Linked DNA regions of Homo sapiens. The protein of the gene in region 3 purifies or fractionates together with the protein of the main gene of each other region. This does not show direct contact. Each region holds a gene or a part of one and is shown on either strand. Other genes may lie near its edges. The genes, in order: ADD2, L3MBTL3, DPPA4, APOD, ADD1, SDR9C7 and SNX9.

Region 1 (3,500 bases), on a different chromosome or scaffold from region 3:
GAAAGCCTGAAAAGATACCTCCAAAGGCCAATTTTAGGTTCTATAATAGTGATATTATTTACAGGAGTAATTGGGGAAGTTGCAAATCGTGTGACCTCTGGAATAATAGCTGGTAATTATTTAACTATGCCTACATTTTAGTAAAATTCAGGCCCCTTTCCTCTTCCTAACTTGGTGGTCTTTCATCAGTTTTACAAGGATAGTTTAGTTTTTGGGAAGGGCTATCGTCATTTACACTATAAACTAAATTTCTCCTGAAGTTAGTTTGGCTCACATCCAGGAATGAGCAAAGCCAGCCAGCTTGTGAGGCTAGAAGCAAGATAGAGTACTGTCATAATTTTGCAAAGGTGATTTCAGTTTAAGGTGGACAATTATGCAAATATATACAAAAATCAGTAGTTTTTGTATCTTAACTACTTTGAAAATATAATAATGGGAGAAAATAATCCTATTTGCAAATGGATCACAATCATAAAACACTAAAAAGCATAATCCGTGTTTTTAAAACCATAAAACTTTATTAATAGACATCAGAGAAAACCTGAAGTCAGTGAAGAGCTATAATTTATTCTTGGTTAGAAAGCTTCAATAGGGTAAAGAGGTTACTTCCCCAAAATTAATCAATAAAGTCAATGGATTTCTTTCAAAAATGGGGGAAGGTATGAGGACTTGACAAAATATCCTTCCATGTGAAATTCAGAATGGCTAGGGCAATGTTATAAAAAGAAAAGTAATTAGGAATACTAATTCCACCTCATGACAAAGTGTGATAAAACTTTGGCAACTAAATGGCGTGGCACTAGCAGAATGGATGTGCAAAACAATGCAACAGCTTAGAGAATCCAGAAATAGATCCAAAATATATGAGAATTTAACACAGGAAAAGCAGGCACTTTATAAATCAGTGAGGGAAAGATAGACTACTTGCCATCTGGGAAGGAAAGCTAAGGCAGATGCTACTTCATTTATTTCAACAAGATAAATTCCTGGTTTGTCAAAATGGTAAACATAAAAAGTGAACTCATAGGGGTATTAAAAAACATAGACTTATGTTTTTGATGCCCTTGTGTTAGGGAAGACTTATCAAGCACGGCACAAAAGGCTGCAATCTTGACAAATATTAATAGATATGATATTAAACAATTCAAAACTTGCATTTCTATAAGCCACTCCCCCACCATAAACAAGGTAAAAGACAAAGTATGGAGGGAAATATTTTCACCATCTATGATAGTGAAAAAATTAATATTCTTAATTTACAAAGAGCTTACAAATCAATGTGAAAAACAGAAACATCAATAGAAAAATGGGCTGAGAACATAAACAATTTACAAAGGAAAATAGTTAAGTAGCCATTATATGTAATTGGAAATATCCATTTTACTAGTATCAAACATATATGGACACACATGTATATGCATAGAGATATGACTGGAAAGGTTTTTAGTGATTGTCTCTGGGGTGAGAGTTTGCATAAAATTCCGTTTTTTCCTTATTTTTTTTAATTTTGCTTAATTTTTCTACATGGATCTGTATTTCCTTTATAATCAGAAAAATAATGTCATTTTAATTTAAAAATAAAAGAAGACAAAGAGAGCTGAATATTGCTCCAACAGCTGCCAAGATTCCAGAATGTTTGTTCTCTCCAAGAAGCAGTCAGCTCCAGCTTTGAGGGGATGTGGCCTTGCTTAGGAGACAGGAATGTTCTTGAGTCTGATTTCAGGGTTCCTAGAAGGAAATTGTTAAGAAGTTTCACAGTCAAGGAAGGGAGGGGTGACTGTTAAATCAGCTGGGAAGCTTTTAAAGATCCTGTAGCCCAGGCCACACTGTGATCTGATTAAATGGGCAACTCTGCATCAGGGCCCAGGCATCAGTGTTTGTGTGAAGCTCCCCCCGTGATTCTAGTGTACAGCCAGGGCTGGGAGCCACTGGACCAGAGGAAATCTGTGGCTCCATTTGGATGAGGAGCTCTGTCTATCTGGTCCACAAAGGTCTAGGGATTTTCTCAGCCCTGATCAGAGGACTTGTTGGGGTAGAGAAAGAGAGGGGATGGGGGACCAGGAGGAGGGAACAGTTCTGAAATATACCAGAAGAGTGGAAAGCCTAGATTGTTTAATGGAGATTTGGGTTTACATGAAGAGTCCTTTAAGCAGACGGAAGGAAAGGTGTGTGTGCATGTATGTGCAGGTACAGGCCTTTTTTCTCACCCCATAAGTGGTTCTATTTTTGTCCTTTATAGGGCTACAGAACAGGTTACACGTATCGCCACCCCTTTGTTCAAGAGAAAACCAAACACAAAAGTGAGGTGGAGATTCCAGCCACGGTCACAGCCTTCGTGTTTGAGGAGGACGGTGCCCCGGTGCCCGCCCTGCGACAGCATGCCCAGAAGCAGCAGAAGGAGAAGACCCGCTGGCTCAATACGCCCAACACCTACCTGCGGGTCAATGTGGCCGATGAGGTCCAGAGGAGCATGGGCAGCCCCCGACCCAAGACCACGGTAAGGGGGAGCCCAGGACAGACCCGGGCAGAGAGGGGCAGGCTGCATTAGCAGGGTGAAGCATTTTTAAAACGGGAACAGAACAAACCTCTCCTGCCCCAGGTTAGTAGCATCCTCTTTGGGCTTCCTATTAGGCCTCTGGGAGCAGCTGCTCAGGCCCACTGAGCCCCTGACCACTTCTTCCTTGCACCTCTGCCTGAGTTTTTGGGTCTAAGGAGCAGATTTCTCCAGAGGGCAGTTGGACCAGGCACATGACCCAGAACCAGTTGGTTTGTGCTTCTTTCTCCCACATCCACAGGGGGCTCTTGGGAAATTCAAGGGAGGAGCATTTAACATTGGGACTTCAGATCTGATGCAAGCCCAGGAGGTGGGCTGTACAGCCACTTCTATGAAGTTATATTTTCTCTCCCTGTCCCCACCCACAGGCTCTCAATTTTTTATTAACATAAAAGTAGCCAACAGCCAAATAGAATAGCTCTTCATAAAACAATATGAAGCTCTCCAAACTCAAATCAAGTTACCTAATACTGAAGCCCAAGTGGTTGCCTGTGTATCAAAGCTGGTTCCCAAGGTTCTGACCCCAACTCTTGGATGTTCTTTATAGCCGACCTTTGGCCTGAGGGCCTTCATTGGTAACTGGGTCATCTGTTGCCATTCTCTGCTCCTGGAGACAGACATCAAAGAGGCCTAAGAAGAGAGAGTGTCTATGAGTAGGCTTGCTGACCTTCCATGCAGGATGTTGGGCCCAGATCTCGTGGGTGGACCACTGGGGAGGACTCATGGGCCTGTTCCCTCACCTCAGCCCCATGACCTTGTGTTTGTGCAGTGGATGAAGGCTGACGAGGTGGAGAAATCCAGCAGTGGCATGCCGATTCGCATCGAAAACCCAAACCAATTTGTGCCTCTCTATACTGACCCCCAGGAAGTACTGGAGATGAGGAACAAGGTAAGTGGGGTCTGTTTATCCCACTCTTTCTTCTCCCACACTGGGGGGTCTCAGGTC
Region 2 (3,500 bases), on a different chromosome or scaffold from region 3:
TCAGTGGGCTCCAGAGCAGTGCTTGTGACTGTGATGCTACCCACTAAAGATGCATCCCTGTGCTCCTGGTGTCAGGCAGAGGCACTCACCATTTCATCATCTCTCTCTTCTCCATCCTCCTTGGTGTCAGCTTTCAGAGATAATTTTGGTTTTTTCTTCCGACTACACTTAGGATCTTCTTCCTCATTGTCTTCTTCTACGTCCCTTTCTTCCTTCTGATCTCTGTTGTGTTTATAAACCCAAAATAGTGACAAGAGACAATACCTATCAAACATCTACTTGTTGATTATCAATGCAACAATCATTAAAAAAAAATCACCCTGCAAAGGAAAAATCTTTAACTACCAGGAGAAATCTGTAGGCATGAGAATATCATATATCAGGAACACTGAAAACAACTATTACATATGACATCTGTCTGTCAGGGCAGAAAATGAAAATTACCTTATATATTAATTTCAAAAGGGGGCCAGCAATATGTATGAAATAGGTTCTAACAAGTTATTTGTCTGTCACATCTACCATCTATACTAATAAAAGAATTGATTATTTAGAGATATTTGTTTTCAGGGTCAAAGAAGGATCTAGCAGTTATTAAGAATGACAAATCCAATTGAAAAAAGGCTAAGTGTAACATTGTGAAACATCAGTTATCCAAGAAAAACAAGACAGTTCCAGTTGGGCGCAGTGGCTCACACCTTTAATCCCAGCATTTCGGGAGGCTGAGGCAGGCGGATCATGAGGTCAGGATATTGAGACCATCCTGGCTAACATGGTGAAACCCCGTCTCTACTAAAATAGAAAAAACTAGCTGGGTGTGGTGGCGTGCGCCTGTAGTCCCAGCTACTCGGGAGGCTGAGGCAGGTGAATTGCTTGAACCTGGGAATGTGGAGGTTGCAGTGAGCCAAGATCACGCCACTGCACTCCAGCCTGGCGACAGAACAAGACTTCATCTCAAAAAAAAAAAAAGAAAAAGAAAACATTTCCCAAGCCTGTGCTGATTAAAATACATGGGAAATGCCACTAAAATATAAATGTCCAGTCATTTCTTTGTAGTATACAATGATATGCAAGAAAAACACCTTCTTGGTGATAAGCTGAACTTTGTCAGACTGTCCCCAAATGGGAAGGTCACACACCACTACCAGTTACAGCTGATGCCTCTGTCTCATAATCCTCAGTCCACACCTTGAGATCATCAGTGACCCAACTCACTACACTCTTCCCTATGGCCATTTCCATTCAGCTGATTACGAATCAGTGGAAGCTTTATGCCGTAGGTGGAGTTTTAACCGAGTTACCTAAGAATTCCCAAAATATAAACAAAACTATGTTTCTATAAATGTCAGTGTCATCGAAATGTGTATATAGCCCAGAAAAAACTAAATACTCTTAGCTGAAGACAATCAAATGAATGGAAATGGAAGACTGAAGGCAGAGGCAGAGGCTGTTTTGCAGGCAGAATATTAGTAATACAACTCAGACCAGGCATGACAGACGTCACCAGGTCCCATATAGGGGTTAGGGCCCATGTGGCCCTAAAGGAAAAGTCTCTGGGAAAAAGGTATCAATAGGTGATCAATGTCCGAGAGCATAAAACTTCTATATTCTCAGGCACCATGACTTTGGAATCTAAAACTCAATTTATAGATGGAATGGGGCAAAAACCTACTTATCTTTGATGTGCCGAGCACAATTCTGGCTGCAATAGTTTCCTCCAGAAAGACACTCATCTACGTTGCCATACTGACAACAGTTCTCACAGAACTGAAGCCCTTCTACTTTCACTGGATCCTTCAACCTGAAAGGCATCCCAGTCTTCTCTGAAAAGACTAGAAGATGAAAAGAAGAAATGCAAATTACAACCATGACAGAAGACATTCTAAAATACAATCAAACTTTTTCTTCTAATAATTTTGTTAGCAACACAATAAAGAATAGTGTTTGCTGAATGAATGAATGATCAAATGATAGTGTTTTCGGGGGGTATGGGCTCTGTAAAAATCACTCAAGTCATTCAAATAATGAAAAAATATTCTGCAGAAAGGATAAAAGCTTGCCCAAGGCTTTTTCTACAGAGTTCAAAGTAAAATGAAGAAAATTTCACTAGTCACTAAATTCAGAAGACGCATATATCGATCTATAGAAACTTCTTCTATATTTGTATCTTTCAGAAAATTTCAGAGGATCTTCTTTTATTTCACATTTATAATCTTTTGATGAATGATTTTGTTTTACTTAATTGGCTAAATCAACATCTCTTCTATTACGCTTTCAATGTAGTACATTTCCTGACTCATAGCTATCCAAATTGTGTAGAAACTCGCATTTCCTTTTGCCTGAATTGTTAGGCTAATCATTCATTCAGCCAGCAGTTATTAGGCACCAATTTATTCTAGACATTAATAATGACAGTAGAGACCTTGCCCAAGAGAGCTCACAGTCTAGAAGAAAAGAGAGGCAAGAAAACCAGTATTTATAATAAAATGTGATACATGCAATACTAGAGGCATAAACAAGGTCCAGAAGTAGTACAGAAGAAGTGATTCATTCAGCCTGGGGTAAGGTCAGAGAAGGATTTTCTGATAGAAAGCCTCAACAGGGTTTTGAAGGCCAAAGAGGAATTTACCAACTGGACAAAGAGAGAAATGGCATTTGAGCCAGAAAAAGCAGTATGAGTAAAGGCAAGAAAGCATGAAACCACATGATGTGTTGGGAAAATTACACGTAATTCTGTGCTGCTGGCACTGCCAGAACACAACATACAAAGAAGGAAACAGAGACTGAGGAGACAAGGCGAGCAGGTAGGTGCAGGCACCCAGATCTTTGTATGTTCTGCTAAAAAGGCAATGAGAAATCAGTGAAGTGTCAGATAAGCAATCTACGTTAAGTTCCTCTGGCTTCAAGGTGCAGGACCAATTGGAAGGGGGTAAAATTAGAAGTAGAGTGACATCTGCAATAGTTCAGATGAGAGTTGAGAAGAGCCTACATTAAGGCCATGGCAAAGATGATAGATAGAAAAGGCCAGATCTGAGACATATTAGGAAATAAAAATCAAGAGGTATAAGTAACAGGATATGGGGATGGGAAGAACAAATTCAGGATGACTCCTGTGTTTCTTGCTTGTCCACTGGGTGGATGGTGCTATTGTCAACTGAAATATGGGTTAGGGAAGAAAGAGCAGGTTTGTGGGGAGGGGAGAAAGAAATAGAAAATGAATTGCATTTCAGACATGTGGAGTTTGAGGTACCTGTGGGACATCCAGGTGGAGATGTCCAGTAGGCAGGTGGAAATACGGGCCTGGAGCTCGGGGGAGAGGTCGGGGCTGGAGATGTAGATTTAGGAGTCATCAGCATATAGGTGTTAGTTACAACCATCGGAGTAGATGAGAAAAAAAGTGGCAGGCTTTTGGCTAAATCACCTGTGTAGGCTACAACATGGATTTACTTAATTTCCAACTAACCTTGTGCTACTACAGATCTGGCATTAGGACAAAGAAG
Region 3 (4,288 bases):
TTTAGTAGAGAAGGGGTTCTGCCATTGTTGGCCAGGCTGGTCTCAAAACTCCTGAACTCAAGTGACCTGCCCACCTCAGCCCCCCAAAGTGCTGAGATTACAGGCGTGAGCCACCATGCCCAGCCCAGAACTCCAGTTATTCTGAATGTTACGTTCAATTACACTGACAAAAGAAAGATGATTCAGTTATACACTTTATACACAAACCTTAATTAGAAAGTCCTACTGGTGGTTACCAAAGGCTGTGGTAAAGAATTGTTAAATCAAAGCCCTAATATCTCCCAGATGACCTCAACTCACCTGGTTTCCTCTTTGCCGCCTTGGGGGTTGCCCAGTCCACAACCTGCACTTCCTTCTCTATTCCTGGGCTCCGTTTACTTACTTTTTCTGTCCGTGGATTTCTAGCCTGTGAGCAGATTACTAACACCATTTGGATAAAGACAGTCTCTTATTTATCATTTTAGGACAAGCAATGAGATGTAGGAAAAAAAAACAACAAAGTAAACCAAAGAACAAAAGAGACTTTGGACCCTGACAAGGGAGGGTTTCAGTCGCACAGCCACTGCTTCCTTCACTTCACATCTCTTGACAATCTGACAGGGAGCACTGATCTGAGGAAAGATTTTTCAAATTATTTTAAGGAGAAAAACTTGAACTTCTTTGGGAGTCAGTAGGTTAGGGGTTCACTTACTGTGCTATTGAAAAAGTTACCAATAAAAATTTATACCAACTTTAGTCATATATAAAATGGGGAACAATAATGACTGAATTTAAAACTCACAATTTGAGATATAAAAAAATACTCGGGCGGGGAGTGGTGGCTCACGCCTGTAATCCCAACACTTTGGGAGGACAAGGCTGGAGAATTACTTGAGGGCAGGAGTTCGAGACCAGCCAGGTCAAAATAGCCAGACCCCCCCACTTGCCCTCTACAAAATAAATAACAAATACTCTATAGACTTTAAAAGCTACTATTATTAGTTCGTTGGCAGATGAAAAGATGCTCGGTATTAGTACAGAGAAACCTGGAGTTTTAGTTGGTTGAGTAACTTACTTAGGAAATGGAATGTATTTGGTACGAGAAAATAGCTTTCTTCAAGCCGCCAGTCTGGTCTCTGAAGTCTACTGTTGCCACAAGTTCCATTATTAAATCCCTTCACACATCCTGCTCAAGTCTCTGGCCACTGTTTTTTTGTTTTTTGTTTTTTGTTTTTTTTCCCCGTAGAATCGTTCTGAAGGAGTGCTCAATCTCCCAATGTCTCCGGAACCATACTTTGGATAATTACATTTAAAGTGAACAGAAAAGGGCCAGGAATAGTATTAGTAATTCAACCCAGACAAAAGTCACCCCATGAATAAGAAAGAATGCAATTTTAGCATTTACAAATTGTGGGGGAGGGAACAGAAGGGGAGAAGAAAAGAAGAGGTGAGGTGGAGAGAAAAAGGGTCTTCGGGCGGCAGGAAGTGGGAGGAGACTTTGCAAATAGCAATCTTGGGGCAGGGGCCATTTTGGAAGCATGTTGCGAGGCTCCGCTTCTTCTACAAGTATGGAGAAGGCAAAAGGCAAGGAGGTCAGTACAGTTTTAGTGGATTTGTTTTCTGTCTGTCTTTGTGTTTCTGTCTTCCCTGGGCACTCCTGATTTTTCCTTTAAGGAGAAAAGAATGTGCCTTCGAATTTTCTCCTCTTGACTTTTTTTTTTTTTATTTTAAGAGTAAGGCCCAAGAATATGATTGCAGCCTGGTATATTGGAGTGAGCAGACAAGTAAGAAATGAGGTTTTCTAGGTTTAGTTGAGGAGGTTGAGTGTGTCAAAAGATGGGGAAAAAAAAAAAAGAGGCCGGGCGCGGTGGCTCACGCCTGTAATCCCAGCACTTTGGGCAGCCGAGGCGGGCGGATCACCTGAGGTCGGGAGTTCGAGACCAGCCTGACCAAAATGGAGAAACCCCGTCTCTACTAAAAGTACAAAATTAGCCAGGTGTGGTGGCGCACACCTGTAATCCCAGCTACTCGGGAGGCTGAGGCAGGAGAATCGCTTGAACCCGGGAGTCGGGGGTTGCGGTGAGCCGAGATCGCCCCATTGCACCCCCAGCTTGGGCAACCAGAGCGAAACTCCACCTCAAAAGAAAAAGTTAAAAAATTAGGTTTTCAGGTTTGTGTTTTGGAACAGGGTTTCACTTTTGTCTCCCTGGCTGGAGTGCAGTGGCACCATCACTATTCACTGTAACCGCCCAGGCTCAAACGATCCTCCCACCTCGGCTTACCAAAGTGCTACTGGGACTGCAGGCGCCCGCCGCTGCTCCCGGCCCGGGTTTTCTGTTTTGAAGAGGTGCTTAGTCCTGTCAGAAAGAACTAACTGAATATGGGGGCTAGAGGGAAATGGTAACAGGAGAAAAGGGTGTTAAAGGAAAGATTTTAGGAAGAGGTAATTGAGCTGAGTTTGGAAAAGAATGAAACCCCTTAATTTCCTTTAGACGGACACAGATCCTAAACCGAGGGTGCTGAGAATGAATTCGTCCCCTTTTCCCAGCGTCCTTAGGACCTAGGAGTAATCAGAAGCCAGACATTGGGAACAATGCAGACAGAAACTGAAGGAAGAGAGGATTTAAGACGTTGCACAGGCACTGAACGGCCATATCCGAGCGCTCTCAGGTCCTCTTGACTTGAACTGGGTCATTTTTAACTGTCTCGGTTTTAAGTCTTTTGTGAGGTCCAAAGTGAGTACTTTTTGTAAGGTTTATGCAAATATAAATTTCAAATCAAAATGTAGAACTGCTATAGAGATGTAAAAATGCCATACAAATGTTAATTTGTCCAGTAATCCACCCTGAAAGTGAAGAAAAGGATTTAGATTTAGGAGAAATTTTATTATATTAATTTTTTTTTTTTAATGAGTTTGACTCTGTCGCCCAGAGTGGTGTGCAGTAGCCGATCTCGGCTCACTGCAGCCTCTGCTTCCCGGGTTCAAGCGATTCTCCTGACTCAGCCTCTCGATTAGCTGGGATTGCAGGCACGCACCACCACGCCCAGGTAGTTTTTGTATTTTTGGTAGTGACTGAGTTTCGATATGTTAGCCAGGCTGGTCTCGAACTCCTGACCTCAATCGGTCAGCCCACCTCGGCCTCCCAAAGTGCCGGGATTACAGGCGTGAGCCACGGAGCCTAGCCTTTATATTTAAATTTTAATTTATATCTAATGTACCCCTAATCTGTGTCTTTATGTTACCTCTGATTCTCAGCTTCTGTGTCTGAGAAGTAATTGTTGCCAGATTGCTATGAGAATTAAATGAATGAAAAAAGGAAGGCCAAGGCCAGGCACAGTGGCACACGCCTGTAATCCCAGCACTTTGGGAGGCTGAGGTGGGCGGATCACTTGAGGCCAGGAGTTTGAGACCAGCCTGGCCAACATGGTGAAACCCCCATCTCTACTAAAAATAGAAAAATTCAGCCGGGTGTGGTGGCAGGCGCCTGTAATTCCAGCTAGTGGGGAGGCTGAGGCAGAGAATTGCTTAAACCGGGGAGATGGAAGTTGCAGTGAGCCGAGATTGGACCACTGCACTACAGCCGGGGTGACAGAGCGAGACTCCTCTCAGAGAAAAAGAAAATAGGGAACCCTTGGGCGCAGTGGCTCGCGCCTTTAATCCCAACTCTTTGGGGAGCCAAGGCGGGAAGATTGCTTGAGGCTAGAAGATTGAGATCAGTGGGGGGAGACATAGGGAGACCTCACCTCTACAAAAAATTATCCTGTAGTCCCACCTGCTCAGGAGGCTGAGGCAAAAGATCACTTGAACCCGGGAGGTAGAGCTTGGAGTGAGCTATGGTCCTGTCACTGCACTCCAGCCTGTGTGACAGGGCAAGACCTTTTCTTTAATAAATAAATATTTTTTAAAAAAATGAAAGTGAGGAGCATATCAAAGCCAATGCCTAGTATGAGACAGAGGCTCAATATATGTTACTGTCTCTGGATTAAACAACTTTTCCCCACTCCCACTTTGCTTCCTTTAATTCAATGAACCAATATTTATTGAGTGCCTATGATGAAAAAGAAATCACACAAACCAATGTAATTGCAATTAACAAGTGGTAGAAATGAGGTAGTATTTAGTAGATTGGTCTGGAAGGACCAGGTTAAATAGCACTTGAGGTGAGACTTTTAAAAGAAGAGTAAGATTTTTAAGGTGTAAGATTTTAAAGTGTAAATAGAAGTAGGGTGGAGGTTGGGGCTGAGGAATGTAACAACTTTGGAAAGGAAAGGAATTATGTGGCTGGAGCTTGGTCAGGGAGAGCAGTGT
Region 4 (2,868 bases), about 86 Mb from region 3:
TCACATCCCAGTGTGGATACTGACACGTGACCCCGCAATTTACTATAACTAGCTAGCGTTTCAACAGGTGAAACACAAGTAGGTGCACACCGGGTGTGGGCTGCAGAAGACACAACCCAGTCTTGTTTCCCAAAGGAAACTGGGGCCCGAAACATTAGCAGATATTAGCAGAACAACCTGCACGGCGCAGAAACTAGGAAGCAAGAGATGACAAGAGTGACGGCAAGTTTGAATCCTGCTTCTGCCACTTTCCAGTCACATTGTTGGGGATCCTGTGAGATACCTAATGACAGGCATTTGCCTCTGGGTTCTGAGCTAACTGAGGAAGGGACACAGGCAATAGAGAAAGCACCAAATATTAGTTTTATTTCCGACGAAGATACACTAGAGAGTTCAACCCAGAACTGTGAGGCTTTCTAACACGAAGAGTGCTTGAAAGCCCCTTTCCCACCTGCAGGGTAGACACTGAAGTCATCAGCTACAAAAGTTACTCCCTGCACTTCCTACTTCTCATCTCTGCCACTCCTCCACCCCACACCAGTCAAGTGCCTAGAGCGGGGAGGAGAGGAAGTTCTAATTTTATAGACCAAGAAAGGAATGCTGGGAGGAGAAAACAGTTCTTCTCACACTATGAATATGGACAACTAACTTCACATGTACAAGCCAGAAATAACTGCCCAGTGTCGTGAAAATAAACCAGATACACACGCTCTGTAAACTGTAAAGGGCTTTATACACAGTTTCTCTTGTTATTTTTATCAAGAAGGGAGCTAAAGTGCAGGTGGGCTGAGTGACGCAGGCCATCACTGAACTCATTAGAAGTAGAGTTGGGACCTAAACCTAGGTCTCCAAACTCTCAACTGAGTATTTTTCCCATAGGGATCAGGGACGGGGATTGGAGTGAAAGCTAACTATTACATGCATAACAAGGATTAGATGTTTGCGTTAGGCCTTGTAGGATTATGGGAGATTATGGAAAAGGATTTCCAAGTGAAGGGAACTGGAACATAGAAGAAGGCCTGAATACAGGCATATCACGAAGTCAGGAGTTCAAGACCAGCCTGGCCGACATGGTGAAACCCTGTCTCTACTAAAGATACAAAAAATTAGCTGGGCATGGTGGCGTGTGCCTGTAATCCCAGCTACTCAGGATGCTGAGGCAGGAGAATCGCTTGAACCCAGGAGGTGGAGGTTGCAGTGAGCTGAGATCGCGCCATTGCACTCCAGCCTGGGCGACAAGAGTGAAACTCCATCTCAAAAAAAAAAAAAAAAAAAAAAAAAAAAAACGAAGAAGAAGAAGGCCTGAATAAAGAGGCCTAGAGCCTGGGAGTGTACATGAAGAGGGGCATGAGGTTAGGAAGGGCCTTGAATGCCACATTAAAAGGCTTGAAGTTTCTTCCATAAACAATAGGAGACTGTCAAAGTTTTCAAATAAGGAGAGACATGTGAAGTTTTCTGTATTGTATCTGGGTAAATTTATTCTTCGGAACTGGACCACGAGAGGAAGGCAGAATGTGCCAGCCTGGGTGAGTGCAGGTGGGCCATGATGCCGCTGCTGGCAGAGGTGGGAGACAGATTTTTGCAAAATCACTCTGGGCTTAAGAGTTCTCAGTCCACCTGGGAATACACAGAGCAGCTGAAATGTGCAGATGGGTGATGACTATAACGCTGTCTCTCTCTCTCTCTCTGTCTCTCTCTCTGGGTGAGTGAGGCAGGCAGGCAGGCAGGGCACCAACAGTGCTAGAAAGGGTAAGTCAGAAACACTCAGTCTAGGCTTTCGTCCAAACTTCTTTCCAGGGTCTTTCTGTTTCTGGATTGATAAACAAAATCAGAGGTGGGGGGCTTGGTGGGTGGTTGTCTGGGCCAGCCTTCTTGTGTTGTCCTGAGATTTCTCTTGCCCTCTCCCTCCAATAATGCTGCCTCTCTCTGGTTCTCAGTTATGCCATCGGCACCGTACTGGATCCTGGCCACCGACTATGAGAACTATGCCCTCGTGTATTCCTGTACCTGCATCATCCAACTTTTTCACGTGGATTTTGCTTGGATCTTGGCAAGAAACCCTAATCTCCCTCCAGAAACAGTGGACTCTCTAAAAAATATCCTGACTTCTAATAACATTGATGTCAAGAAAATGACGGTCACAGACCAGGTGAACTGCCCCAAGCTCTCGTAACCAGGTTCTACAGGGAGGCTGCACCCACTCCATGTTACTTCTGCTTCGCTTTCCCCTACCCCCCCCCCATAAAGACAAACCAATCAACCACGACAAAGGAAGTTGACCTGAACATGTAACCATGCCCTACCCTGTTACCTTGCTAGCTGCAAAATAAACTTGTTGCTGACCTGCTGTGCTCGCAGTAGATTCCAAGTTGGATTAATTATTGTGGGTTTTTCATTATAAGCTTATGCTTAGAAATCCTTAAACAGGCTGGTTGTGGTGCCTCATGCCTGTAATCCCAGCACTTTGGGAGGCTGAGGCAGGAGGATCACCTGAGGCCGGGAGTTCAAGACCAGTCTGGGCAACATAGCAAGACCTCATCTCTACAAAAATGTTTTTAAAATTAGCTGGGTATGGTGGTGCACACCCGTGCTAGCTACTCAGGAGGTGGTGGCAGGAGGATGACTTGAGCCCAAGAATTCGAGGGTACAGTGAGCTATGATGGCACCACTGCACTCCAGCCTGGGCAACAGAGCAAGACCCTGCCTCTAAAAAGAAAAACAGAAAAAAAAATCCTTAAGCAGTTATGTTGAAAAAAACCAAGCACTGAATTGTCCTCATTTAAAGGTAACAATCCTGTTTCTGGAGTGGGGGAAGCTGATGGCAAAGGCGTATTCTGGGTGACCTGAATCCAGATGCCCCCGTTCTGG
Region 5 (3,500 bases), on a different chromosome or scaffold from region 3:
GTTTATTTTTTACTTGTTTCACTTGTTAAAGGAAGTGGGCGTTATAAAACAAAAAAAAAAAACCCCAAAACACCTTTCTGCGGCTGATGTGAAGCACAGTGCTGAATTGCCATGAGGAAGTTTTCCAAAGCGTTTAGGCAGCAGCGCGAGCTTTATTTACCATTAGCTTGCAAAACAACTAAGTCACTTTAGGCCTAGTAGTCAATGTGTACATCCAAGGGGAGGCCTTGCTCCGCATTTATATTTGTTTCTTACTGTTCTGGAGTGACAGAGTCCATGCAGTGCTCCCAGGTTGGTATCTTTTCATTTATAATGATTGCTGTTACTTTTTCAAATGTGTTCAAGTTTCTGAGGTTGCTGTTTGAAATGCTTTGACTAAAAATTATTTTTAATAAAACGCTGGAGTTGTTTTTATCTGAGAAGATAACCATCAGTGAGTACCCAGAGCTCCATGCCCATTCCACACTCTCCTCGCAGTGGCTCAGCATTTGCTGGTTTTGTTGCTTTTTTTAAAGTCGTATGGTTTATGGCTATCTTATTGCCTCTCGAAAGTATTCTGAAAGGCATAACATTTGCTCTCGAAGATGGGCTTGTTTTAATGTTCAGTGCCTACTCATGCCTTAGAATTTGATTAAAAATCTCAGATTTGATTGGAGATCCAAAAAAAAATTATGGGTGGAAGGCTCAGCATGCTGACGAGATGCACTGATACTAAAACAGCCTTTAAATATTAAGGACTCATGAAGCGCTTCAAGTTTGTTTGGGATATTTTTGTAGCACTCAAAAATATTAAGTTATATAAAATATTCGACATCACCAAACTCTTCTTCCAGGTAGCTACCGTGTAAGTGTCCATACAGTAATGTTCTTGGGTTGAAAGTTACGCAGACAGTGCATTCTGATGCTGTCATTTACTTTAATGCAAAACTTTGGTGATGCCCACTCTTGCCTCACGGTGCAGGCTCCTCCCTAACCCTGGGTAGCAGCATCACATTGCTTTTCATGACCCTGTCATCTCATGCTTCCAGTTGGCTTTGGTGTTGGATGATTTTCAGAGCAGTGAACCAATGGTCTCTGAGGGGCCTCCCCTGCTGGTCCCAGGGTTATGGGGCTCAGCTCTGTCGTCAGCCTACCTTATGACCCAGATTCAGCTGGGCTTTCCAGATGGTGGTTTTCCATCAGTCATGACTTTGACTTCCAGCATTAACTGGTCTTTATGTGGCTGCATCCTGCTCCCATGGCGACTCTGCTGAGTGACCCAGATTAGATGTGGTCATTGGTTCAGTCCTCTCTGTGATGTTCAGTGCATGACCAGATGTGAGATAAACTGAATAGATTGGATGCTATGTCACTTATTGTTGTCATAATTCTGACTTTTCAACTGTTCTTGATATTACAGTGGACTAAAGAGGATGGACATAGAACTTCCACCTCTGCTGTCCCTAACCTGTTTGTTCCATTGAACACTAACCCAAAAGAGGTCCAGGAGATGAGGAACAAGGTGCGTCCTGCGTCGGCACTCAGCGGGGGCTTGGGTGTGGGATTGGAAGGGATGCCAGCTGCTTTGGGGGGAGCGGGTGCTTGCTTCTAGCAGAGGGCATCTGCTGTTGTTGCCACTGTTGCAGTGAAGCCATCTCTTCACACCGCTGCTGTTCTACCACCAGTGTGAAGTATGAGCAGCAGACATTTTTTGGGCCCTATTGATTCTTGAACTGATGTTTGCTCACGATGTTTGCTCACCGGTCAGAATTGGAAGCTGCAAAACCTGTTCTTAGCAAGAGCAGACTGCTGTCCCTTTCAGGGTTCGTTCAAAGACTTGTGAGTGGCATTTGGTGTATCAGAGCAGGAGCCCTGCCAGTGCTCACATCACTAGACGATGGACATGCAGCGAGTGTTTCCCCCAAGTTAATGACAGTGAGAGATAGGTGTCCTGCCCAAGCATCTGGAAGATGTGGGGAGCTGGGAATAGTCTCCATCCCTGCAGACCCACGCCCCACTAAGCAGGCATGGCGGTCACTCAGAACACATGGGGCCATCCTGCCTGCGTGGGGCAGTGGGAGAGCTGAAATGTAGCTTCCATGTGGCTGGGGCCCAAGTGCACAAGCAGCAGGGCTCCCAGGCAGCATGGCTGCTCAGGACTGTTGATGTGTGCCTCTCCTTCCCACCCTCAGATCCGAGAGCAGAATTTACAGGACATTAAGACGGCTGGCCCTCAGTCCCAGGTTTTGTGTGGTGTAGTGATGGACAGGAGCCTCGTCCAGGTGAGAGCCCAGAGTGTCTCTGACTTTAGTGGGTGGTGGCTGTGTGACCGCCTGCTCCAAAGTTATTCTGAAATTGAGAGAGTGACTTTATGAGGTAAGTATTCTAGGCAACCAGTTACCTTTGTTAAAACCTTCATGATGAGAAACGGTTCAGGCACTTTTCGTTGAGTTCTAGAAGGAGCGAGCATGCTGAGGGCTGTGTCCACCCCTCTGGTCATGCCCCTTGTAATGCATGCATATGTGAGGGTGGCACATACACCACCAGCTTTGGGGCTCAGATTCGGCCCGGGTTCAGCAGCGTTCTGTGTAAGGCGCTAGGAGAGGGTGGGTTTAGGGACTCTTGTTCTGGTACATATTGCTGTCTGCAACAAAGTGCTGCTTGGGTTGCAGAGGGGTGGGTGCCTGTAAGTGTGGTGCACATTTACACACATTTCTACAAAATGACTCTACCTTGTGGCACATTGAAGATAATTGTGTAAGTAGTTATCTCTGAAAACTAATATGCCACCTAATGCTTTAACACCTGACTCTGCAGGGGTAGACGATTGTTGGATTTGTCCAGCCGTGGTCCTGGTTTCGTGTTCAGTGTCTGCACGTCCTGCCATCATCACTGCCACACTTACTGTTGACAGCTGTCCCTGCTGCATGCTCTTAGCCAGCTCCATCCTGTGCTCTCAGCTGATATTTCACAGGCTGGGCCTGGTGTGCTCTGGTGACTCAGTTTACTGTTTCAGGATGCACCTCTCTCTGACTGTACGGAAACTATCGAAGGGCTCGAGCTTACAGAGCAGACCTTTAGTCCCGCTAAATCTCTCTCTTTTAGAAAGGTACTCACTGCCCTGTCCTCACTACCTGTCTATGCGCCTTGCTCCCCTCCCCTCCCCCCTCCCCGTCTCCTCTCTTCAGGCATTGTCTTAGTTACTGAAGTAGCTTCAAATGGATCTTTAACCTGTTTGTGAGATTGTACAGAAGGTTCTGTTCTACCTACTTGATTCTTTAATTAAAACATTTGCTATGAGGTGTGATAACAATTTCCAGCATTCGAAGTTGTTACTGAGAAATGGCCAGTCTGAGCAACGTGGTGCATTTCTGCAGTTCCGCACGGGACTTTGGTCAGTGCGTGTTTTGGGTTTCAGAATTTGCCTTTTCCATGACTCTGACTGCAGACAGCCTCTTCTGGGCAGTCTGTTGCTGTTGGCAGCGGCCACTCCCGAGTGCCCTTCCACCCTCGCTGGTTCA
Region 6 (4,034 bases), on a different chromosome or scaffold from region 3:
ACTAAAACAGTTGTTTCCAGGCTGTATTTTGCAAGCCTTCTAGGGGGAGGAAAATGCAGGAGAAGCTCTCCTTTCATTTGTTTTACATATTGGGGTTCTACTGTAAACCCCTCTAAACACTCCTCAAGGACCCCTTCCAGCTCCTTCATGCAAGGATTCCCCAAGTCCTACTGCCTGGTGATTCGCACCACAGCCCCAGCCTCAGCAGCCCCAAGATACTCTGCAGGCGCATCCCACTGTCTCCTGAGGGCAGGTCTCAACACAAACATAAATCCTAGTCCACCCCTCCCTCTAGGGCTGGGGTCCCCACCCAAGCCATGCCCCTACCCAGTCTCCCTGCCTTTCTCCATTCAGGAGCAATGAGAAAGCATGAAAGAACTTCCTCTCCCATCCCCCTACCCACCCCAGTTCCCAGTGTTTCTTAGACCAGGATATTGCCAAGTGGCTTAGGCAAAATAATGGTCCCCCAAAGATGTCCCCATCCTCATTATCTCTGGAACCTGTGAATCTGCTGGATTACATGGGAAAGGGGAATTAAGGTTGCAGGTGGAATGGAGGTTGCTAATTAATTGTCCTTAAAGTTAGGGAGGAAGCTAACACGGGAAATTATCCTGGATTAACCTGGTGAGCCCAATATAATCACAAGTCCTAAGTGGAAAGAGGCAGAAACCGGAGAATCAGAGAGCTTGAGAAAAGTGTGAAAAAGACTGGGCCCAACCTTGCGGGCCTTGAAGATGGAGGTAGCAGGCCAGGAGCCAGGGGATGCCAGCTGCCTCTGGAAGCTGGAAAAGTCGATGAGACGGATTCTCCTCTACAGCCTCTAGAAGGAACACAGCTCTGCTGACTTTGATTTTAGATCAGTGAGGCCTATTTTAGACATTACTCCTCCACAACTACAAGATAATATGTTTGTATTGTCTTCAGACCCCACAGTTGTGTTATTTGTTACAATAGCAACAGGAAACTCACATGCTAAGTGAGGTATTAAGGCAAGTGGCTCAAGGCTGAATGTAGGGAACTGGCTGAGACAGCCTGCTGAAGACAGAGGCTCACTCTTGCTGAATTATTAATTAATTAGCTCACTCAAATCTATTTATTCAGTACCTTACTAGGTGCCAGACATTATTCTAGGTACTAAGGATGTACAGTAAATAAAAGGGACAAAAATCCTTGTCCCCAGGAAGCTTTATTCTAGCAGAGGAAACAGACAATAAATAAGTAAAATCTATTGTACATTGACTAGTGATAAGTGCTAAGGAGAAGAATCAAGCAGGGAGTTACTGTCTAGATCCCCCTGGCTCCAGGGCTCTGTTGCCCTGACCTGCGCATGGGCTCCAGACTAGTTCCTTTAGGAGGGAGGACTTCCTCTAGTCTGCTGCTTCTGCAACTCAGCCATCCTGTTCCTCCTGTTCCTGGGCCCACACCCTGTGTGCTGGAAGTGCATGAGGCAGGTCCCCACACAGTCCTGGGCCAGCCCCAGTCCACAGCTTCCTTTCCCAATAGGAGCAGCCACTGTGACATACATACTTGCCCTGAAGTCAAATCAACACCCACCATGATGTCAAGAAGAGACCAGATCTCTTTCTCCCCTGCCTGACATAGTCAAGGAGACAAACTGCACCCACTCATGGGATCCAGCCTCCTGTCTCATTCCCCCTCCCCCATCCTGATCCCAACAAGAAATGTGTTTGTATTTCCCCAGGAGCTGATGGTTAGGACTGCTGAAACATCAGAGAGGCACATCCTTTTTTTTTCTTTTTTTTCTTTTTGAGAGGGATTCTTGCTCTGTCACGAGGCTGGAGTGCAGTGGCGCAATCTTGGCTCACTGCAACCTCCGCCTCCCGGGTTCAAGTGATTCTCCTGCCTCAGCCTCCTGAGTAGCTGGGACTACAGGCACGTGCCACCACACCCAGGTAATTTTTATACTTTTTAGTAGAGATGGGGTTTCACCATGTTGGCCGGGATGGTCTCGATCTCTTGACCTCATGATCCTCCCACTTCGGCCTTCCAAAGTGCTGGGCTCATAGGCGTGAGCCACCACGCCCAGCCAGGCACGTCCATTTTTAGAGGTTTGGACACACAGAACACATCTTCCCCCCTCGCTTCCTATTGAGACCTCTTTCCCGTTTCTCTGAGTTTCCAGGACAGAAAACTTCCTTGGGAAATCACCCCTTCATGTGAACAGGCCAAACCATGCAGTGGCTTCCAATCAGATTGAGGCAGGGGCCTTTCCCTACATCACCCCTCCCACCCAATCTGGACATCAGGGTCTCTGATACTGTCAGATGCTTCGGGAGAGAGGAAGAGGAAGAAGGAGAAACCAAGAAAGCCAAAGAATGTAATTCGCCCCACCTTGTTCGCCCACTTTGTCCCTCACCCACTGGGCCGCCGCCTTGATGCTTTCGCTCTTGGTGACATCCAGTAGGGTGGTCTGCAGCCGATAGGAGGTATCCCGCTGAAGTTTCTGGGATCCCTCCTCAGTGAAGCAAGCAGCCAGCACCTGCATGCCCCGATCAACCAGCTGTTTGGCCAGCAGGTTCCCGAAGCCAGAGTCACAGCCTGTGATGAAGACGTACTTCTCTGAGAGGTTGCCAACCAGATTGCAGTTCTTGAACCAGCGATACATAAATGAGAGGTCTGTGAGGGCCGCCATAGGGCAAGGGGAATGTGATGGCCAAGAGGGACTGGGCTCAGGAGACAGCAGGGAAGAAGCTGGTCCTCTGAGCCCTAGCAGGCAGTCTGCAGGAAACCACCTGGAAGAAGAACTCTCCTTCCTCCCACAGCTTGCAACAAATCTAGGTCCCTGGGTGAGCCACGCTGTAATTTTTATAGGTGGATGCATCACCACAGCAATTAGCCCAGATGCAAGAAATTCAAGTCCAACCTGAAGCCTTGTCACCTCTGACAGCCCTGGTAGCTGCCTCCCTCTCTCCCCCTGCCCTGATGGGTAAAGCTGCCAAGAATTGGAAATAATCCACTTGTAATGTTGGTGATGAGTGGTGGCTCACCCAGGCGGTGTAAGGCAGGCAAATGAAAGATGAGGACTCACCCCAGACAGCTCCCCTAGAAATCCTGTCCCCACCCTGCCCCCAACCCAGCCTGGGGATTTTGGTCTCCAGGGATCAAAATCATTTGTCGTGAGTGCAGGTATGTAAATAAGTTTATTTTCAGGGAAAATACTCAAGACAAATTTATTAATGTAAAACAAACAACATTGGTTCTGTACCTTCCAAACCCCAAGAGAAACAAGTCGCAGGTCATCAGCTCTCTGGAATTCTTAGGTAAGTCTCCATCATGAGAGAGGATGAAAAGCAATGGATTTCTCCTAGGGTGGATGTACCTCCATTGTCCTGAGGCTAGAGGCAGCAGGGCCCTCCTATAGGGGAGGCTGGCATGTGAAGCTTAGCCACCAGAAAGCAGAAAGACCTGGGGGACTCAGGCCTGACACCCTGTGGGGGTCATACTCAGGTCACCAGTAAGCAGCCCTGGGCAAGATGATGAGGAGGGATCATGAGTTCACTGGGCAGCTGAGGGAATTGTCTGGGCAGAGGCCTTGACTGTAAGAGGGGATGAGATATAGGAGGAGCAGAGAACTGGGGCCAGAGACATAGAAAATTCTCAGGGTCGGGACTTGGAGGAGAAACAGAGATTCTAGGCAATTTAGCAAATAATTTACAGAAAGCTAAGAGGTAAGGTGGTAAAGGAAAGGAAATAAGGAAACCAGAGGTGTGAGTAGTGAGGGGCCACACCCAGAATTGCATAAGATGCAGGGAATGATGCTGGAGCCTCTGTGGTTCTTTGGATCAACATCTAGGGTCACCATTCCTTGGGATGAGCCTGGTCCTAGCTCACACCTTCATGGCTTAGCGAGTCTGACACAGAAATGGGACCACAAAGTTCTCTAGTGTGAAGGGACAAAGGATGTATCTCTGTGATCCACCATTTGCCAAGTCTGACCAGCGTGGAATCACATAAAGCAGGTGTCACCCTGGGAAAGCCCCGCAGGGTTTGGCCGTTCCTTAACAAAGTAGGGG
Region 7 (3,500 bases), on a different chromosome or scaffold from region 3:
AGGCGTTTTCAGCAGTGTCCAGCTCGCAGATGCCACCAGTATGGCTGAGCAGAGGGCTTGCTCACCACTCCCCATGAACATGGCTTAGATCCCATGGCCAGAGGGGAGCTGGGTAGGCAGCAAGGCCGCCAGCGGAGGCTGGATTCTACATTACAGACCTTACCTGCAGGTGTCTGAGGGAGACATGCTACTAGATTTTTGTTTTCTATAGACTCTGGTAAACAACAAAATTACTAAGCAGAGGTAAGAAAAATTTAAGTTTTCGTTATTGTTTTGTGAATAAAACCATCCCACATCTCGCTTTTTTGGTTTTCTCTCTGCGATTTCCATGGCGCACTGTGAAAACCTCATTCACAAAAAGCAAAGGCTGCCTTTGGTTTCCTGTGTGGTGCCAGGCTCCTGTTCCAGCTGCCAACGGAGTCCCAGGGACGGCTGGGTGACCTCATCTCATTCAGCACCGTTCCTGGTGCACAGAGGCACAGAGAGGCTGTGACGGGGGGAAGGAGCTGCACAATAAGGAACTTCTTGGGGCCTTGCAACTAGCATCCAAGACCCCTGCTTCAGAAGAAAATCTTTTTTAACCCAGTGTTATCCAAAAAGCAAAGGGCAGATGGAATTAGGAGATTAAAAAAATCCTGTCCAAAATTTAGGCTCCTTTGGTTTATTACTTAGGATTAAAGAATACAAACAGATTAACTTTACATGGTCAAAGTGGTTTACCAGGAACCCTCTCCTCAAGCACATGCGAAAGGCACGTGGACGCCCACTCACCGTTTCGTAAAATTGCACTTGCTGCTCCAGGTACAGGCGGATGACACTGTTGTAATCATAGATCCGGTTACTGTGAAAGTGATTCATCTCAGCTACAACCCAAATCAGAACATCAATCAGTTTTCCCTCAAGTTTTCAAATGACAACACCTGGTTTCTCTGCTCAGTTACAATTAATCATCAACCTGACCTAATCTGGTTGGCTGCTGTTGTCAGTTCTTGGTAAATCACTTTACTAAGAGGTTAGAAAAACAAGTTGAGCTGGGCGCAGTGGCTCACACCTGTAATCCCAGCACTCTGGGAGGTGAGGTGGGTGGATCACCTGAGGTCAGGAGTTCAAGACCAGCCTGGCCAGCATGGCAAAACCCCATCTCTACTAAGAATACAAAAATTAGCCGGGCATGGCAACAGGTGCCTGTAATCCCAGCTACTTGGGAGGCCGAGGCAGGAGAATTGCTTGAACTCAGGAGATGGAGGTTGCAGTGAGCCGGGATTGCACCACTGTACTCCAGCCTGGGTGACAGAGCGAGACTGTCTCAAACAAAACAAACAAAACAAAACAAGCTAATGACAAACATTACTTTCCAGTAAATGAATGACTTTCACTGTCTTGCATATTCAAAACTATAAAATCCAATACAGATAAATCACCCAAATGCAGCCTATTACTCTAACAGAATCGATCAAATAGAAAATACTTGGTCATATTTGTTACAGATGACTGCAGTTCAAAGCCTCTGGTGTGTCTGCACTGGACCTAGCAGGCAGCTGGGGTCCCTGCCCCGCTCCCTCCTGCACAGCAATTGCTTCAGCAGGTTTCTGGTGAAAGGCTGGGCAGCGTGTGGGACAGCGGGAGACCCTTCTTCAGTACGGGAAGCCTTGCTGCCCCTGAGCACCAGCGACGCTGTCAGAACTCAACCTCTCACAGGGCAGGAGGACTGGATGCTGAGGGACAACTTTCTTCATGTTTGCTGAATACATGGATTCCTTCTTTCTCTGTCCCCCCTGCCCCTGCCCCCAACTCTAGAGGAGTCTTCGTCATCAGAGGACCTCATTGCCTCCCTCGGATGCCTCCTATGCCGCCTTCTCCCAAACCCTCCAGGCTGAGAAAGCCAGCGGCTGCACAGATTCCCATGACATGCAAACTGTTCTACATTTTACATTCAGTTACTTGAAGTTATACAAAGCTTTGTATTTCTCAATTTGGATAACCTCAAACACAAGTTCAAAACCAAACTCCCCATTTCAAACCCTTCAAAACCCGAAACTTCAATCAGGGTTCCTCGTTTTTGCCGTAGTGGCCTGGCTCTGGACACCTCCCTCATCCTTCTCTTTCTCCCATGAATGCCCCAGTCTTGAAAGCTGTTCCTTGGAAAAGCCTGCAAATGTGCTTCATTCTCTTCTCCCCAGTACCACATCTTTAGGCCCTCAAAGCTCAGACTACAACAGTGAGATGGTCTTCTGGCTGGGCTCTTGGACAGTGTCTGCATCTTCCAATCTCCCCTCCATAACCAGCAAATCCTTCTCCCTTGAGGATTGATTTTTTTTTACTCCCTTTTAATGGCTTCTTAATGCCTGCATCAAGTCTAGAGCTTTCAAGTTCCTTCACAATCAAAATTTATTTCCCAATAACCTCTAAGTATGTTTTACTCTTTCATGCCCATGACACAATCTAGCACCACAATTTTGTGGCTTTTGTTCCTAACAGAACACGCTCTCCATTCTCTGCCCATCCAAGTGCCATCCACCCATCCGCCAACAGGAAAAATCCACTTGCTGCCCTCATCTGCTCAAAAACACTCAAACCTATAGAAATTCATCTTTTTTTTTTCTTGACACAAAAAAATTGTGCCTAAAATGACACACCCAAACCCCTTCACATTCCATGATCCCAAGGCACGCAGGTTACAGACTGCTAAAAGCTGGGCTCTGGCATTTAATAGAGCATTATGATACCACAGATTACAAAAGGAATCTTAAATGTCTCTCAGAAATAATAAAATGTACAGTTTTAATCAAGCTGTCATCTATAGCCAGATAAGGTGGACAGGTGAAAAATTAAATAAATATTACAGATTTTCATCAGCACCGGGATCCTGCAAACGAGGGGCTTAAAAGGTCTCACTTACTTAACTGCTGCTCACATCTGGATTTCTCTCTATCAAGGGAAACTTTGCTGGGGAAAAAAAAACTTCCACCAGCACCTCATAAGGACCCTTTCATCTTACCTTGCAACGCGTAAGACATGATGCTGACTCTCTTCACCATGTTCTGTTTGTCTTGTAGGGTGATTTTACTTGTTGCAACTAGTTTGTCACTTTCTTTCACTTTTTCTATTGCTCCCTGTGAAATATAAAATGCAACAGTATGAATAAAGCTGAAATGATTAGTCATTAGTTTAAAATATAACAATGCTAATATATTCTATAACTGATTTGCTACTGAACAGGAAATACCTCCACAAAATAAGAAGAGAGGAAAGCATCTAAATTTAACTTCCTTCAAGTCCCTTGGAAGCAAAAAGGTTGCTATTCTTGACAAATGTCACTAAGCTAAAATGAACAGTTTTATGCTACAACAAAAGAGAAAAGCAAACAGCACACCATCTCTGTAATATTCAGAAGCCGCTGCCATTTGAGGAGTAGCACGTAATGGAAATCAGGCATTAGCAGGTTTTGGAAGTCATGTGGCTAGGTACAGGGCAGCATGTGCACACAGGCACTCTCTCTC

Evidence for each region.
Region 1: the proteins of DPPA4 (region 3) and ADD2 purify together in Homo sapiens (affinity purification with mass spectrometry; 3 studies listed by BioGRID and IntAct, with this or other methods). This does not show direct contact.
Region 2: the proteins of DPPA4 (region 3) and L3MBTL3 purify together in Homo sapiens (affinity purification with mass spectrometry; 3 studies listed by BioGRID and IntAct, with this or other methods). This does not show direct contact.
Region 4: the proteins of DPPA4 (region 3) and APOD purify together in Homo sapiens (affinity purification with mass spectrometry; 3 studies listed by BioGRID and IntAct, with this or other methods). This does not show direct contact.
Region 5: the proteins of DPPA4 (region 3) and ADD1 purify together in Homo sapiens (affinity purification with mass spectrometry; 3 studies listed by BioGRID and IntAct, with this or other methods). This does not show direct contact.
Region 6: the proteins of DPPA4 (region 3) and SDR9C7 purify together in Homo sapiens (affinity purification with mass spectrometry; 3 studies listed by BioGRID and IntAct, with this or other methods). This does not show direct contact.
Region 7: the proteins of DPPA4 (region 3) and SNX9 purify together in Homo sapiens (affinity purification with mass spectrometry; 3 studies listed by BioGRID and IntAct, with this or other methods). This does not show direct contact.

What each region holds. Positions count from the first base shown.
Region 1 is NC_000002.12:70,677,701-70,681,200, reverse strand, and holds part of ADD2 (beta-adducin), read left to right. Parts: intron 1-498; exon of another isoform or gene 499-1,728; intron 1,729-2,239; coding exon 2,240-2,497; intron 2,498-3,018; exon of another isoform or gene 3,019-3,184; intron 3,185-3,323; coding exon 3,324-3,443; intron 3,444-3,500. UniProt on the Homo sapiens protein: Membrane-cytoskeleton-associated protein that promotes the assembly of the spectrin-actin network. Binds to the erythrocyte membrane receptor SLC2A1/GLUT1 and may therefore provide a link between the spectrin cytoskeleton to the plasma membrane.
Region 2 is NC_000006.12:130,049,581-130,053,080, reverse strand, and holds part of L3MBTL3 (lethal(3)malignant brain tumor-like protein 3), read right to left. Parts: intron 3,431-3,500; coding exon of another isoform or gene 3,326-3,430; coding exon 3,251-3,325; intron 1,833-3,250; coding exon 1,673-1,832; intron 223-1,672; coding exon 90-222; intron 1-89. UniProt on the Homo sapiens protein: Is a negative regulator of Notch target genes expression, required for RBPJ-mediated transcriptional repression. It recruits KDM1A to Notch-responsive elements and promotes KDM1A-mediated H3K4me demethylation.
Region 3 is NC_000003.12:109,334,747-109,339,034, reverse strand, and holds the start of DPPA4 (developmental pluripotency-associated protein 4), read left to right. Parts: upstream 1-1,488; 5' UTR 1,489-1,517; coding exon 1,518-1,571; intron 1,572-2,327; exon of another isoform or gene 2,328-2,714; intron 2,715-4,288. UniProt on the Homo sapiens protein: May be involved in the maintenance of active epigenetic status of target genes. May inhibit differentiation of embryonic cells into a primitive ectoderm lineage.
Region 4 is NC_000003.12:195,568,205-195,571,072, reverse strand, and holds the end of APOD (apolipoprotein D precursor), read left to right. Parts: intron 1-1,937; coding exon 1,938-2,173; 3' UTR 2,174-2,368; downstream 2,369-2,868. UniProt on the Homo sapiens protein: APOD occurs in the macromolecular complex with lecithin-cholesterol acyltransferase. It is probably involved in the transport and binding of bilin. Appears to be able to transport a variety of ligands in a number of different contexts.
Region 5 is NC_000004.12:2,906,344-2,909,843, forward strand, and holds part of ADD1 (alpha-adducin), read left to right. Parts: intron 1-1,399; coding exon 1,400-1,501; intron 1,502-2,171; coding exon 2,172-2,261; intron 2,262-2,995; coding exon 2,996-3,088; intron 3,089-3,500. UniProt on the Homo sapiens protein: Membrane-cytoskeleton-associated protein that promotes the assembly of the spectrin-actin network. Binds to calmodulin.
Region 6 is NC_000012.12:56,931,609-56,935,642, forward strand, and holds the start of SDR9C7 (short-chain dehydrogenase/reductase family 9C member 7), read right to left. Parts: upstream 2,801-4,034; 5' UTR 2,654-2,800; coding exon 2,353-2,653; intron 1-2,352. UniProt on the Homo sapiens protein: Plays a crucial role in the formation of the epidermal permeability barrier.
Region 7 is NC_000006.12:157,938,246-157,941,745, reverse strand, and holds part of SNX9 (sorting nexin-9), read right to left. Parts: intron 3,114-3,500; coding exon 2,999-3,113; intron 864-2,998; coding exon 772-863; intron 1-771. UniProt on the Homo sapiens protein: Involved in endocytosis and intracellular vesicle trafficking, both during interphase and at the end of mitosis. Required for efficient progress through mitosis and cytokinesis. Required for normal formation of the cleavage furrow at the end of mitosis.